Regions from separate parts of the Homo sapiens genome. Here regions 2 and 3 are each reported to be linked to region 1. Evidence: microRNA targets listed by miRTarBase, many of them from high-throughput screens and not tested one by one. Region 1 holds a microRNA gene; each other region holds the end of a gene's coding sequence.
The links. The annotated mature microRNA hsa-miR-6760-3p reads ACACUGUCCCCUUCUCCCCAG and lies in region 1 at 1,299-1,319, shown strand. An mRNA with a match to its seed (bases 2 to 7 or 8) in the 3' UTR can be bound and repressed. Matches are read on the target gene's strand: a 7mer-m8 pairs with bases 2 to 8, a 7mer-A1 pairs with bases 2 to 7 and ends in A, and an 8mer does both.

Region 1 (4,239 bases):
CTCTGTCTTAAAAAAAAAAAAAAAAAAAGAAAAGAAAAAGAAATCTACCAGCTGGGCACAGTAGCTCATGCCTGTAATCCCAGCACTTTGGGAAGCCAAGGCAAGTGGGTTACTTGAACCCAGGAGTTCAAGACCAGCCTAGCCAACATGGCAAAACCCGTCTCTATTAAAACTACAAAAATTAACCCGTCATGGTAGTGCACACCTGTAATCCCAGTTACTCAGGAGGCTGAGATGGGAGGATCAATTGATCCCGGGAGTTGGAGGTTGCTGTGAGCCCTGATTGCACCACTGCACTCCAGCCTGGGTGACAGAGCGAGACCCTGTCTCGAAAAAAAAAAAAAAAAAAAAAAAAAATCGACCATAGACCCAGTTTAGTGAACTGCTGCATTCTGATTTTAACCACTCAAAACCTCTTTGTGTTAGATGTTTTCATTGCTCCCCATTTCAAAAAGAGAAACTGAGCTGGGCACGATGGCTCACTCCTGTAATCCCAGCACTTTGGGAGGCTGAAGCGGGTGGATCACCTGAGGTCAGGAGTTCAAGACCAGCCTGGCCAACATGGTGAAACCCCACCTCTACTAAAAATACAAAAAATAGCTGGGTGTGGTGGTGTGCACTTGTAATCCCAGCTACTTGGGAGGCTGAGGCAGGAAAATCTCGTGAACCCAGGAGGGGCAGCTTGCAGTGAGCCACGATTGTGCCACTGCACTCCAGCCTGGGTGACAAGAGTGAGACTCCATCTCAAAAAAAAAAAAAAGAAAAGAAAAGAAACTGAGACCCAGGGAGAGGAAGTGACTTGCCCAGGGGCTGCAATAACCTGTGGCCTGGGAAAGCACCTTTGCAGATGCCGTGTCTGGGACTCATTCCATACCAGGTGGCATGAGAGTTGGAACAGCTCTTGCCTTCAGACTAGCCAGGCCTGAAGTTAATGTGGCAGACAGAAGTATCTAGAAATGTGTGAAAACCTGCCAGTCCCACCCAGAGAGCCTCTCTCATCCTGCCTTCATAGAGCAGGAATGTTCTGACTCCTCTGGGGGTCCCAGGCACCCCACGAGAACCCAGAACCTCCTCAGAGGGGCATTTCTTCCTGTCCTCTCAGCTCAGGAGTAACCCCAGAGGCTGCTATTTCTTGTCCCCAGCCCAGACAGGGCTCTGTGACTGGTCTTCATAGCTCCAGGACAGGGTCCGGGACTAGGAAGGCAGGACCTGAGGCCCTCGGAGGTCTGCCTCCCCAACCCCTGCCTGAAACAGTGCAGGGAGAAGGTGGAAGTGCAGAGTGGGCTCACCTCTCGCCCACACTGTCCCCTTCTCCCCAGCGAGCTGAGGCTGCCCAGCGGGAGGTGGAAAGTCTCCGGGAACAGCTGGCCTCTGTCAACAGCTCCATCCGCCTGGCTTGCTGCTCTCCCCAGGGGCCCAGTGGGGTAAGGATGGGGTTGGGGAAGTGAGCAGGGAGGGCAGAGGGAAAGATCGGGAATGGCTGAGTTTGCAGGTTTCAGCATGTGGGTGACACTTTGTGGTTGATTGTGTGCATCCATTTGAAACTGGGAGTGTGAATGTGTGTGGGTCTCTGTGCATACGGTGAGCATAATCACTATGACCTGCTACACCAGCTGAGGATAAAAATACAGCTACAGTTCTTTACTTTTCAAGCCCACGTTTCCATATACCCTTTATTACCAGGAGTTCCAGTATCTTCCTTTGGAGGCCTCCCTTATCCCCAATTATCCAAGAATGCCAGGAACTTCCTCAGACCAAAGATCATTCTGATTTCCAGATGCACCAGCAAAGACATGGGGGAGAGGGAGTTTGAGGCAATACAGCAGCATGCAGTTTTGGTGGCTGCCACCAGGTGTCGCTGTTGAACACCGGTCATAGCAGCTTTGTGCATGCTTGGGATGGTGATGCCCCTGCTGGTTTTCAGTCCCAAAACTGGGTACTTTTAGGAGTGTGAGCCAGCCAACATATCAACAGGCAGTCATCACCAGGACTGCAGTGGGGCCACATACCAAGATAAAATTTAACATTCATACTCAGCCATTGGTTTCCAAAGCATGCCAGGTGATTCTAGGGGGATTTCCCACCCCAGCCACATGCTATGAAGAGCCAGTCTTCGGTGATCAACCCTGAGGTTCTTGTGTTAGGCCTGATTAATCAATTCATCTTTCTCTTTCCTCCTGGTTTGTGCCTCTTTGGGGTCCTAGTGTCATTTCTTGACAAGAGACTTTCATCAAGGCCACCCCAACCTACCCTTCTGTCCTATATTAGCAGTCTCCATCCTGGCTCTCCCAGAGAGCCTTGGGTTCATTATGTGAATTGGTCTGCCTTATTTCCAGATCTCTACATACCAAGGGGTGAGATTCATGATTCCTTACATAATAACAGGTCTGCTCCAGGGTGACTTCCCTCTCCACCCATGAACCTGAACTTGCGAGCATAATTTTCACTTCACCTGACACCCACATATACAGGCCCAGGTGTCTATGTCTCTCTTTCTGTTTGAATATTGGAATGAGTCTCTATGAATGTGTTACTGTGTATGTGTGTCTCTACTTGTGACCTTTGGGCAACTGACTGTATTCTTAACCTGACTGTGCCTCAGTTTCCTCATCTGTACAATTAACATCTACTTTATAGGGTTATTAAAAGGATTACATGAGTCAGGCATGGTGGCACATGCCTGTAGTCCCAGCCTCTTAGGAGGCTGAGGCAGGAGGATCACTTGAGCCCAGGAGTTTGAGTCCAGCCTGGGCAATACAGCAAGATCCTGTCTCTGAAAAAAAAAATGGATTATGTGTAAAGTGCCTAAAATGGTGCTTGGGTCATTGTATATGCTCACTAAGTACTTGATGCTACTGTTATAATTGTTAATGTGTCTTTGGTGTGTCTGGGGTGTTTTTGCTCATGAGAGCATGTGGCTTCTTTGAGCACGCGCATGTCTGTTGTGTGTGATGATGTGTCCTTGTGAGTGTCTCTCTTTGATGCGTGTGTATTTGTGTGTGTGTGTCAGCATATTTGGGAAACTGCATGTGTTAGTGTGTGCTGTGGCTATAGGTGTGTCCTTGTGTGTCAGCCTGTGTCTGTGTCCCAGGAGATTCTGTGTGTGTCCATGTTCCTGGGTGACGGCATAACACAGAGAGAGTGAACACAGGAGAGAGAGGCTGTGTGGAGAGAGATGGAGAGTGAGAGCCCATGAGGATGCCTCGTAGAGGAATTTGCCAATGGTTCTTAATTAACCCCCGTGGAACCCGGCAAATGCCTGTGCTAATCAGCCCCAGGGAACTTTGCTGGTTTGGGGGGTGTGCTTTTCTGAGCACAACAGTGGCACTCGATGCTAATTAATTTAATGTATTAATGGCATCCGCTTCCTGTTTTAATTGGCATTTATCTCCATGGAAGAAAGCTGGGGTTGGGTTGGGGCTTTTTGTTTGTTTGGTTTTTTTTTTTTTTTAATGTTTCTTAGATTTATTTGTAACTAAGCCTGACATCAGCCTGACTTCAGGTTCCTCAAACAGCAACCTCTCCATCTTCATCCAGGACAGAGGGTCCATTTCCTAAAATGTGGAGAAGCCATGGGTCTTGGGGCTATCAGCAAATTAGGCGGAGGAAAGAGCCGCCCATAACGTGGTCCGTGGCTCCAAGGTGTCAAGTCTAATCCTGAGGGTCCCTTATTGCCTAGAATGGGGACATCCCCCTGGAGTAGGAGCCAGACCTGAGAAAGAAACTCAAACTTTTACCTATGCTGTTTCCTCTGGTGCGAGCACCCAATCCCCAACCTCAGCTGACTCCTTCCTTTTGTCATGGCTATTCTTTTTTAATAAATCTTTTAATCAAAGTGTAACTTAATACATAAGGAAAAGTGTACAAGTCATAAGTATACAACACTTTGAATTTTTCAACACAAGCACACCCCATACCATCATCCAGATCAACAAATTTGCATTCTGCTTGGGATTCAGGGGTGGGGAGGCCAGACCTGTGGACCCCCATCCCTCACCTCTCAGCCCCTCAAAGACCCCTTTGCCTGCAGGATAAGGTGAACTTCACTCTGTGCTCGGGCCCTCGGCTGGAGGCCGCGCTGGCCTCCAAGGACAGGGAGATCCTGCGGCTGCTGAAGGACGTGCAGCACCTCCAGAGCTCACTGCAGGAGCTGGAGGAGGCATCCGCCAACCAGATCGCCGACCTGGAGCGGCAGCTCACGGCCAAGTCCGAGGCCATAGAAGTGGGTCCTGGGGAGGA
Region 2 (4,239 bases), not on the chromosome of region 1:
ATAGTATATAGTTATGAAAAAAGAACATCTTCAATGTGGGGGGAGAGGAGGCAAGTCTCAGTGTAGTGCATGTGAAATGGGGTTATGTCCTACTTTATACGGTAGCTGAGGATTAAGAGTTAATCCATGATAAAGCACTTCAAATAGTGCCTGTCACAGCAACCACAGGTGTCAGCTGTTAACACATTATTGATTAAATAAGTATATGCCTAAATCTGGAAGAACAAACGAAATTATCATGACTTCTCGGTAACACTGTGAAAGGAAATATCCTTTTTCATTTTACATTTCTGCACTGTAAAAAATTCAAACCAGCAATGTTTAATAGCTTTCACATTTGTTAACCATAAACACAAATTTATCAAGGTTTAATAGCCACCACCCATGGCATGGTGAATATGTCCCTGGAGTCTACAGAACCAGATTTGAATTTTATCTCTAGGCCACATGCAAGTCACATGATCTCTGAATCTTGCTTTCCTAGTCCACAAATCTAAGTGAGATAGGTACGGTGTCTAAGCCAATGCCTAGCATGCAGATTATTTCAGTACATGTAACCCTCCCTTCAATTTACATGAATATGAGACATATTGCTAAAGATCAAGTACCAACTGGGTATGACTACAGAGAGCTTAACCTCCAAGAAAGCCAGAAGAAAAAACCAGCAAATGCTCAGTGGCTACTGGGCAGATATCAGCAATCTGCATGACCTAAAATGACTGCTCATTTGCTAACCAAACAGATACTCTGGCGATGCCACTGCTTGGCACTGCCATATCACCACTTCATCAGAAGCTAGGCACTCCCCCAAATTTCTATGATTATCTGTGTGGGTAATGAATGTGTGGATGGAATTTAAAAATCACTACATAGTATTTAAAATCAATTTGTCTAGTGGGGACTAAGCCTAACCAGAGATAGAAAGTACACATCTCATCATTTCCTCTTCTTGTGTGCCACCATCCAGTTTTTTTTGGTCCAGTCCCTTTTTCCCACAGAGCTTTGCCTTAGCCTCAGAATCCTTTCTGAACAATGCAGATATTAGAGCTGCCAAGACAAAAACAGTATTTGCCAACCCTCATACTACTTTTTCTACACTCACATTACCAAATATCTTTGGCATTTATGACAAATCTACCACAGGGAAGCTTCCTTGTATATAGGAACCGCATACGATCTTAAAAAGCATGACATAATAGCCATTGAGAGGTTGCTCCCTTCTTACCTACTCTGATACAAGAATTCTGTCATTCCAGCCGTCTTCCAAATATGCCACCTGAAAACCTACTTGGAAAGAAGCCAGTTATAAATAAATAAATCACATCATTTATCTTAGAGCAGAGGAGTTTACAGCTTTATTGGACACTGACTTGTTTCCCCTCAGCCACAAAGAGAAAAAGACCCAAACAAAAGTCCCTACATTTTCTTGTATAACTTAAAATACATTATATCATTACTACATATTTATACTTCAATAAATCTTAATCTATAAAGCACATTTTTTATAATTGTTATCAGAAAACCTATAAACAAGCTCCATTCTGCCTCACTTTTCCACCAGCTGGCCTTGCATTTATTACTATGCTTTTTAATAGGCTCATGCAAAATCTCACCTTCCATTTTTAAACTTGATCCAAGCACCAGATATAACCAAAATCTCTGAACTAGGAAATATTTGTATTCACATGGGTCATTTTCCACACAATGATGCCCATTATAAAAAAGCCTCCTCTCATATTCTATATTTTAACTTCCAGAGTTTTCCACTAAACAGTAGAACCACAGTACTTGGAATTCTCAGCCAAGGAGTATATAATCCTACTACTACAATGTATTACTTTAATACATTTTAAAAAATGTGTTAAGACTGAAAATTAAAAAAAAATTCAATTGTGATAGGTTAATAAACTAGTTAATTGTCTAGTTGTTTATTTTTTAAATAGAACAGTCCATTCAACTTAATATGTAGGTACAACCTCAATGCTATTAGAGATTGATTAGTTCTTTAAAAAGATTCACAAACTTCCAAATTGTGGTAAGAGTATCGTGGACTCACCTCTGAACACTGGAGAGCCAGCTAGCTCTTTTGAGCCGAGTCCTCCTCCCCCTCCAAATACAACACCCTGGTAAAAAAAACTACAGTTCTGGGAACCTCACAGGTGACCTCCCCTGAGGAATGCTCAGACAAGGGGAAGAGGCTAACTCACATAAAACAGCAAACCCCTATGATTTACAGTGGAAGAAATACCTACCTACTTATGGTAGGATTACAGTACCTAGCACAGTGCCTTGTCGGTAGAAAATGTTTAATAATAAATGCATGGCTGCTTTTTTAGCCTGACGTTCAACCCTTTTGTACCAAAGGAATAAAAAATAGGTAACCTGATACTTGCCCACCTGTCAGGGAATTTTCTGTCCTTAACAAAGATGAAGGCAAAATAATGATGAACTCTATCATCTTTTTCTAAAAGCCATGACAGACCATTACCCTTATGTTTACATTTGCCTTCAACACTGCCATCCGCTACAAATTTTTCCCTAGTGTTATAATTTCTACCTTCATTATTTTACAACTGTTTATTATTTAGACTGTATGCTTTTTAATAATATATGGGAAAACATTATTTTCATTAGTAAGATGACTCCAAATTATAGAGAGGATGAGTAGCTTTTGAATTTTCCTGCAGGCAAAATATAAATTCTTGATACATTTCAATTCTTAGATCAAAGTATTTGCATATCTTCCCCAATCAAGGTGTTCCATTCACTTTTTGATGTTTTATCACCATCACTTCTTATCTGAGATCTTATGGTTCATTTTGAGGCTCTTAGCCATCCTTTATCCTCTTATTTTCTCAAATGCATATTCAAATTAGGTAAAAGGAAATAAGGGTAAATTTTTAAAAGATGGTTTAAAATGGTTTTCAGACTTTGTAATTCCTGTTGCCTTTTAATATATAAGGGAATGTATCCATATAAAGAACATTTCAATGATCAATGCAGAAATAATGTATTTGTCTTAAAAAAGAAACTTTCAAGAAAGGGACAATGAATCAGGTAGTTCATTATTTGGAGAAGTAATACAGACTATAAACATCACATGGAAAATTTAGGCATTAAGACCTGAATTAAGTTTAAAATTTCAGTTTCTAGGCAGGTATGACACCATTTCTTTCAAGATAAATATCATAATGGTGAGTGAAGATTTTTACATTTCCCAGTGGATTTTCTGACAGTCAATAGGGAAAAAACTATTCTGCATCATTTCATATTTTAAATTTTGTCTTCATTTCTGAAGAAAAAGACCTGAGTGCTGATTCTTTTTTTTTTTTCAATTTCTTAAACTTTCACAACATTCAGAAGTTTTTCTGCATTGTGTCTTCTCTGATGTCTAAAAAGATTTGAGCTTTGACTATACGATTTCCCACACTGAACGCATTCATAAGGTTTCTCCCCAGTATGGATTCTCTGATGATTAATAAGCCCCGAATTCTGGCTAAAGGCTTTCCCACATTCAAGACATTTGTAAGGTTTTTCTCCAGTGTGGACTCTCTGGTGTTGCACAAGAATGGAACTTCGGCTGAATGCTTTCCCACACTCAACACATCCATAAGGTTTCTCCCCACTGTGAATTCTTTGATGAAGAATAAGGGCTGAGCCCTGACTGAAGTGTTTTCCACATTCATCACATATATGTTGTTTCTTTCGAGAGGGATTTCTCTTTCTTTCAAACCTGCCCTTGGGGAAACAGGTTTCTCCATATTTAAAAATTTGAGGAACACCCATATTGAGAGTGCCAGGAACTTCATGGGATTCTAATGCTGAAGGAAGCTCCTGCTTTGGAGCTAGTGCTCCATTTTCAGTCCTACCATCATCATCTGAAATAAACAGAAAATGTAAATATCATTCATTATCTATTAAGGGAAAAGAAACCTAAAAAAAATTTTTTTTTTAATGAACTAAAATAGCTAGCACACATCTATAAACCACTCTGACACTGGTGTTAAGGCCTATTCTCAAAAAAGAAAAAATGAAATTACTCTGAATAACAGTATAACATCATGATATAAGGGATATCTGAATAAAACATAGGCAAGTGGTTTACAAATGGTAGTCAGAAAACAAAGGTCAGAAAGATGGTAGATTCTAAGATGGTTAGGGAGATAGTCAAAATGATGTGGCTAGGTATGGATGAAACTTTGTAAGAATAAAAATAAAATAAAATTGGCCACTAGGAAA
Region 3 (4,239 bases), not on the chromosome of region 1:
GTCCCTGACAGAGGGTGGGTGCAGGTGCACAGGAGTCTGTAGCATGGCCTTTGCTGTCCCTGTGAAAGGGTCAGTTCACCCGGTGAATGAGGGAGTGAAATGGGGAGGGAGCAGGTGGTGGGGTGGGAATTGAGGCCAGCCCAGGGGGTTGCTGAGGAGTACTGGACACCGCTGCCCTGAAACCTTGACTCTGTAGGGGCAGCTACCACCCAGTGCTGGGCTTTCTGTCCAGCAGACCTGGAGGCTCCACAGGGAAGGCAGCCCCACCTTTGACCCGTGCCACCCTTCTCTCTGTGTAACCCATCTCTTGTATGTCTTTGCAGTCCCCACCCCGTGAAGCCCCTCAGTGCCGCCCCTGTGGAGGGCAGCCCCGACAGGAAGCAGTCCCGCTCCAGTCTGAGCATAGCCCTGAGCAGTGGGCTGGAGAAGCTCAAAACAGTCACATCTGGGAGCATTCAGCCTGTGACCCAGGCCCCCCAGGCTGGCCAGATGGTGGACACCAAAAGGCTGAAGGTAAGGCCCAGCAGGGTGTGGGGGCCATCTGACAGAATGTGTGGTGGAGTCTCAGGGCTTGGTCCTGGTGAGGGTGGGGCAGGGAGCAGGCCAGGTCCCCCATATCAGAGTCCTGAAGCCAGTTAGGCTCTGACTTTGGAGACAGGCAGCCTGGGGCCCTGTGGTGGTGAAACTTAGGTGTTGGTGGGCAGGCGGGCGGGCGGGCAAGCGGGCAGGCAGGCAGGCAGGCCTAGGGCTGCCCTGCTCACTGTCTTCGGTCCGGCCTCAGGACTCAGCTGTGCTGGACCAGTCGGCCAAGTACTACCACCTGACCCACGATGAGCTCATCAGCCTGCTCCTGCAGCGGGAGCGGGAGCTGAGCCAGCGGGACGAGCATGTGCAGGAGCTGGAGAGCTACATCGACCGGCTGCTGGTGCGGATCATGGAGACCTCACCCACGCTGCTGCAGATCCCCCCGGGCCCCCCCAAATAGCCTTCCTCACCCTACCCCCAGGAGGGTTGGCATGGACCTATTGCTGCCTGCCCTCTCTCCTCCTGAACTCTCTCATCTGCAGTGGGGCATCGTCTGTCTTGCCTTGTCACTCCTTGCTCCTCTCCCTCCTGCCTCAACTGGGGCTGCTGGAAGGGGGCCCTCTGGATTCCCTTTGGAGGCATCAGGTTCTGTGCACAACTTGTGTGTCTTTGGGAGCCCTGGGTCTTTCCCACCTGCCTGTTTTCATATCCCTCAGCTTTGGGGGCCCCAGGGAATTGGAACTCTTCCCCCAAGACAGAGCAGGGGTGAACTGTAGCTTGATGCAGTAATCTGGGACAAGACTGGTTGCTAGCACATACTTTATTATCCCCCAAGGATGGTCAGCCATTTCTTCCCACAGCCAAAGCCCCATCCCCTTCATTTCCCTCCAGTCCCTGGAGGGGCTTCTAGTATTACTGGGACAATGACCACGCTGCCTGTTTGTCTGTGAGTTACGGGCAACCAGCCTCTTCAGCCTCACACCCATTCCCCTGAGAGCAAGAAGCCTGTGTGGTCTGGGCCAGTCTCTGCCATGTCCTGAGTCTGCTTCAGTCTGGAGCTGTTTGTGGGGCGAGTGCCATGTGGACAGTGGTGGATGATGTGTGTGCTTCAGGCTGCTCCCTGACCCCTCTGACCTTTCCACGAGTGTCACATGGGAATGTGTGGGGCGCAGGGGCGGGTGCGGAGAGAGCACCTTTTTGCTTTTCGAGCTCTTGACCACCTCCAATGTGTAGGTCCCTCCAGGCTGGGGCTTGGGACTGCTTATGATTTGGGGATCAAGCCTCCATGTCTATTCTTGTTGCCTGTCCAGATGCCAAAACTCTGTGTTGCTGCAGGGTTTGAACTTTTGGAAACCAATTAAAATGTGCCTTTGGTGGGCGGGGTCAAGAGCCCCTGGATGTCGACCTCTCCCGCTGTGTGGCGTCCCCCTCCCACCTGTTGAATACATAGGGATGGCTCTCTCAGGGCCCTGGGAATGGGAATGGACAGCACTGCTGTGGGCTGTTCCCCTCCCCTAAAGTTAATCTCTTGGTCTGGCCAAGTTGCTGCTCCCTCAACCTTCCTGCTGTCTTCCCCTCCCTCAACCCCAATAGGAGGATCCCAGGATAAACACTGCTGGGCAGGCGGGCAGGCAGGCCTGGGGCTGCCCTGCTCACTCTCATTGTCTGGCCTCAGGACTTAGCCATACTAGACCAGTCAGCTTGCCTGGAAGAGGGAGGTCCCACTATGCCTTTGGGAGACACCTATACTTAGGAAAAAGCCTTTGTTGTCCTCCCATCCATCCATTAAGCTGCTATCTCAGCCTGTCCCTTCTGCCCCAGGGGCTTGCCTGGCTTGGCTGCAGTGCACTTTGAAATGAAGTATCTGTCCTTTGGCCCAGCCCCTGGTTTGCTTGTAGAAAACATGGTAGGCTTCCCCAAGGCATCTGCAGGGAACTTTGGCAGCTTGGGGCACCCTGAATTAGCAAAAATGGGGGGTGATGAGGTGCTGAAGAAGGATACTTAACAGCTTAGTGAGGAGGCAAGAGCTCCTCTGGGACCACCACTTCTTCAGGAGAGGGCCTGTGGGCTTGCTTTTGGAAGGCCTCAGGCAGACACGTGCCCTCTGGGTGATGTCTGTCTGCTGCCAGGATGGAGCAGAGGAGCGCCACACATGGAGGAAAGCCCCTGTAACGTTACCTACCTTAAACTCCACTCATCAAATCTGAGAAAAGTATCCACTGGTCCCCAGGGTTTCAGTCATGCTTTTGGGGGTCATTGGGTATTAGAGAAGTAAGTATCTTTTCTGAGAGAGGGGGAGTCACCCCCCCTACTGGGGATTCCTCTGGGCTTTATTCACTCCCAGCCCTGGCCCTGACCTTTGTGGGCCTCCCTAATGCCCAGGGCATGGATGGCTTCAGAGGAGTTTTTGAATCGAAGCCCAGGGTCCTTGTTGATGTTTCTTCTCCTAGCCACACTTGGAGGAAAGTTGCAGGTGGGTTGGGCAGGGAGCAGGCATGGTTCTGCTTTGCTGTTTGTCTTCCTAGTTAAGGCTCTTTATAAAGAGCTTGTTCTTCATGTTTTAAGCACTTTATGAAGAATAAAACATTCATGTACTGCAGGTGGCTCTGTTGTGTTCCTGTTTTGGAATGAACAGTTACAGGAGGCTGCTGTGGGAGAAAGCACCTTAAATCAAGGTGATGGGATTCTTGGATGACACTGTCCCTGCCCCTTATAAGGGGGCAGCAGCACAGTGTTGCCCAGCAGCCTGAACTTAGTCTTTTCTGACTCCCAGGGTACCCACATTTATTGCGCACCTAAGATGGGCCCATTTATTGGTAATACAGAGGGTAAGAAATGGATTCCTATTCTCAAGTTGCATGGTCTAGCAGGGGAAGATAAGATACAAATCCAAGATACAAATAGTTCTTCATGGCTAGATAGAATCTCTAAGATAAGATACAAATCCAAGATACAAATTGTTCTTCGTGGCTAGCTAGAATCTCCCCCTAGCTTTATGAAAAGTGTTTCTTGTGGTTCAACTACTAGAGGATGAAAAACTTTGACTGCTACAGCTCATGTAGTGTCCAGAAACACTGGCAGACATGAGCCAACCCTGCACTCCACCACGAGACTAATGAGACCCAAAGTGGAGTTCCCTAGAAGACCAAATATTTCTACTGTCATCTTGGGCAAAACAGGCAGCTCCCGAAGTCTGGCTCACTGACCAGGTAATTCAGCTGGGAATCTTCAGCTAATCCATTCTACAACTGTATGTGTTTATTATCCATACTGATCCTTACTCCACAATCTGTAATACTCCCCCTTACCTAACACCCTCCCCACCCACCCTAGTCCCAAGTTCTCCTCCTGCCCAGGAATTAGGCCCAGGAGGGATCTTCCTTGGTTGGCCAGACAAGGTGAAAGCTGCCAGGGCTCTTAATCCCCCACTGATGAACTCACAGCCAACACTTATTTGAGTCTCTACTGTGAGCCCTTTTATGTCTGGCTCTGAAAACTGAAGTGAATCAAAAAGTCATAGCCCCTGCCCTGTGAACTTTACAGTAAGAAAGACTGTCCAGAACAGTAAGTAGTTGTGAGTGCAAAAGAGAAGTGCTGGGTGCCACGGAGCCTCTGTGGGATTTTGTGCAAGCAGAGTGATGGACTGGGAAATGCAATGTTTAGGCTAAAGCCAGAAAGCCAGCATCAGGCGAAGATTTAGTCTTCCGGGTACAG

Region 2: miRTarBase lists ZNF24 as a target of hsa-miR-6760-3p. The part of its 3' UTR that is shown has no 7-base or 8-base seed match.
Region 3: the mRNA of RAB11FIP5 is a reported target of hsa-miR-6760-3p. Seed matches in the 3' UTR shown: 7mer-m8 at 1,609-1,615.

What each region holds. Positions count from the first base shown.
Region 1 is chr12:111,302,891-111,307,129 of GRCh38, forward strand. It overlaps MIR6760 (microRNA 6760), which reads left to right and starts at 1,252; the gene lies at 1,252-1,319. It overlaps CUX2 (cut like homeobox 2), which reads left to right. Exons shown (of 22, transcript NM_015267.4): 10 at 1,320-1,424; 11 at 4,031-4,222. The region is part of intron 2 of LOC105369983 (a long non-coding RNA gene); the gene reads right to left.
Region 2 is chr18:35,333,893-35,338,131 of GRCh38, forward strand. It overlaps ZNF24 (zinc finger protein 24), which reads right to left. Exons shown (of 4, transcript NM_006965.4): 4 at 1-3,878. The coding sequence ends at 3,340. Among named protein-coding and RNA genes, the nearest start is that of ZNF24, 8.4 kb to the right of the region's middle.
Region 3 is chr2:73,072,267-73,076,505 of GRCh38, reverse strand. It overlaps RAB11FIP5 (RAB11 family interacting protein 5), which reads left to right. Exons shown (of 6, transcript NM_001371272.1): 5 at 324-513; 6 at 782-3,124. The coding sequence ends at 985. Among named protein-coding and RNA genes, the nearest start is that of SFXN5, 2.7 kb to the right of the region's middle. RefSeq lists an enhancer at 4,196-4,239.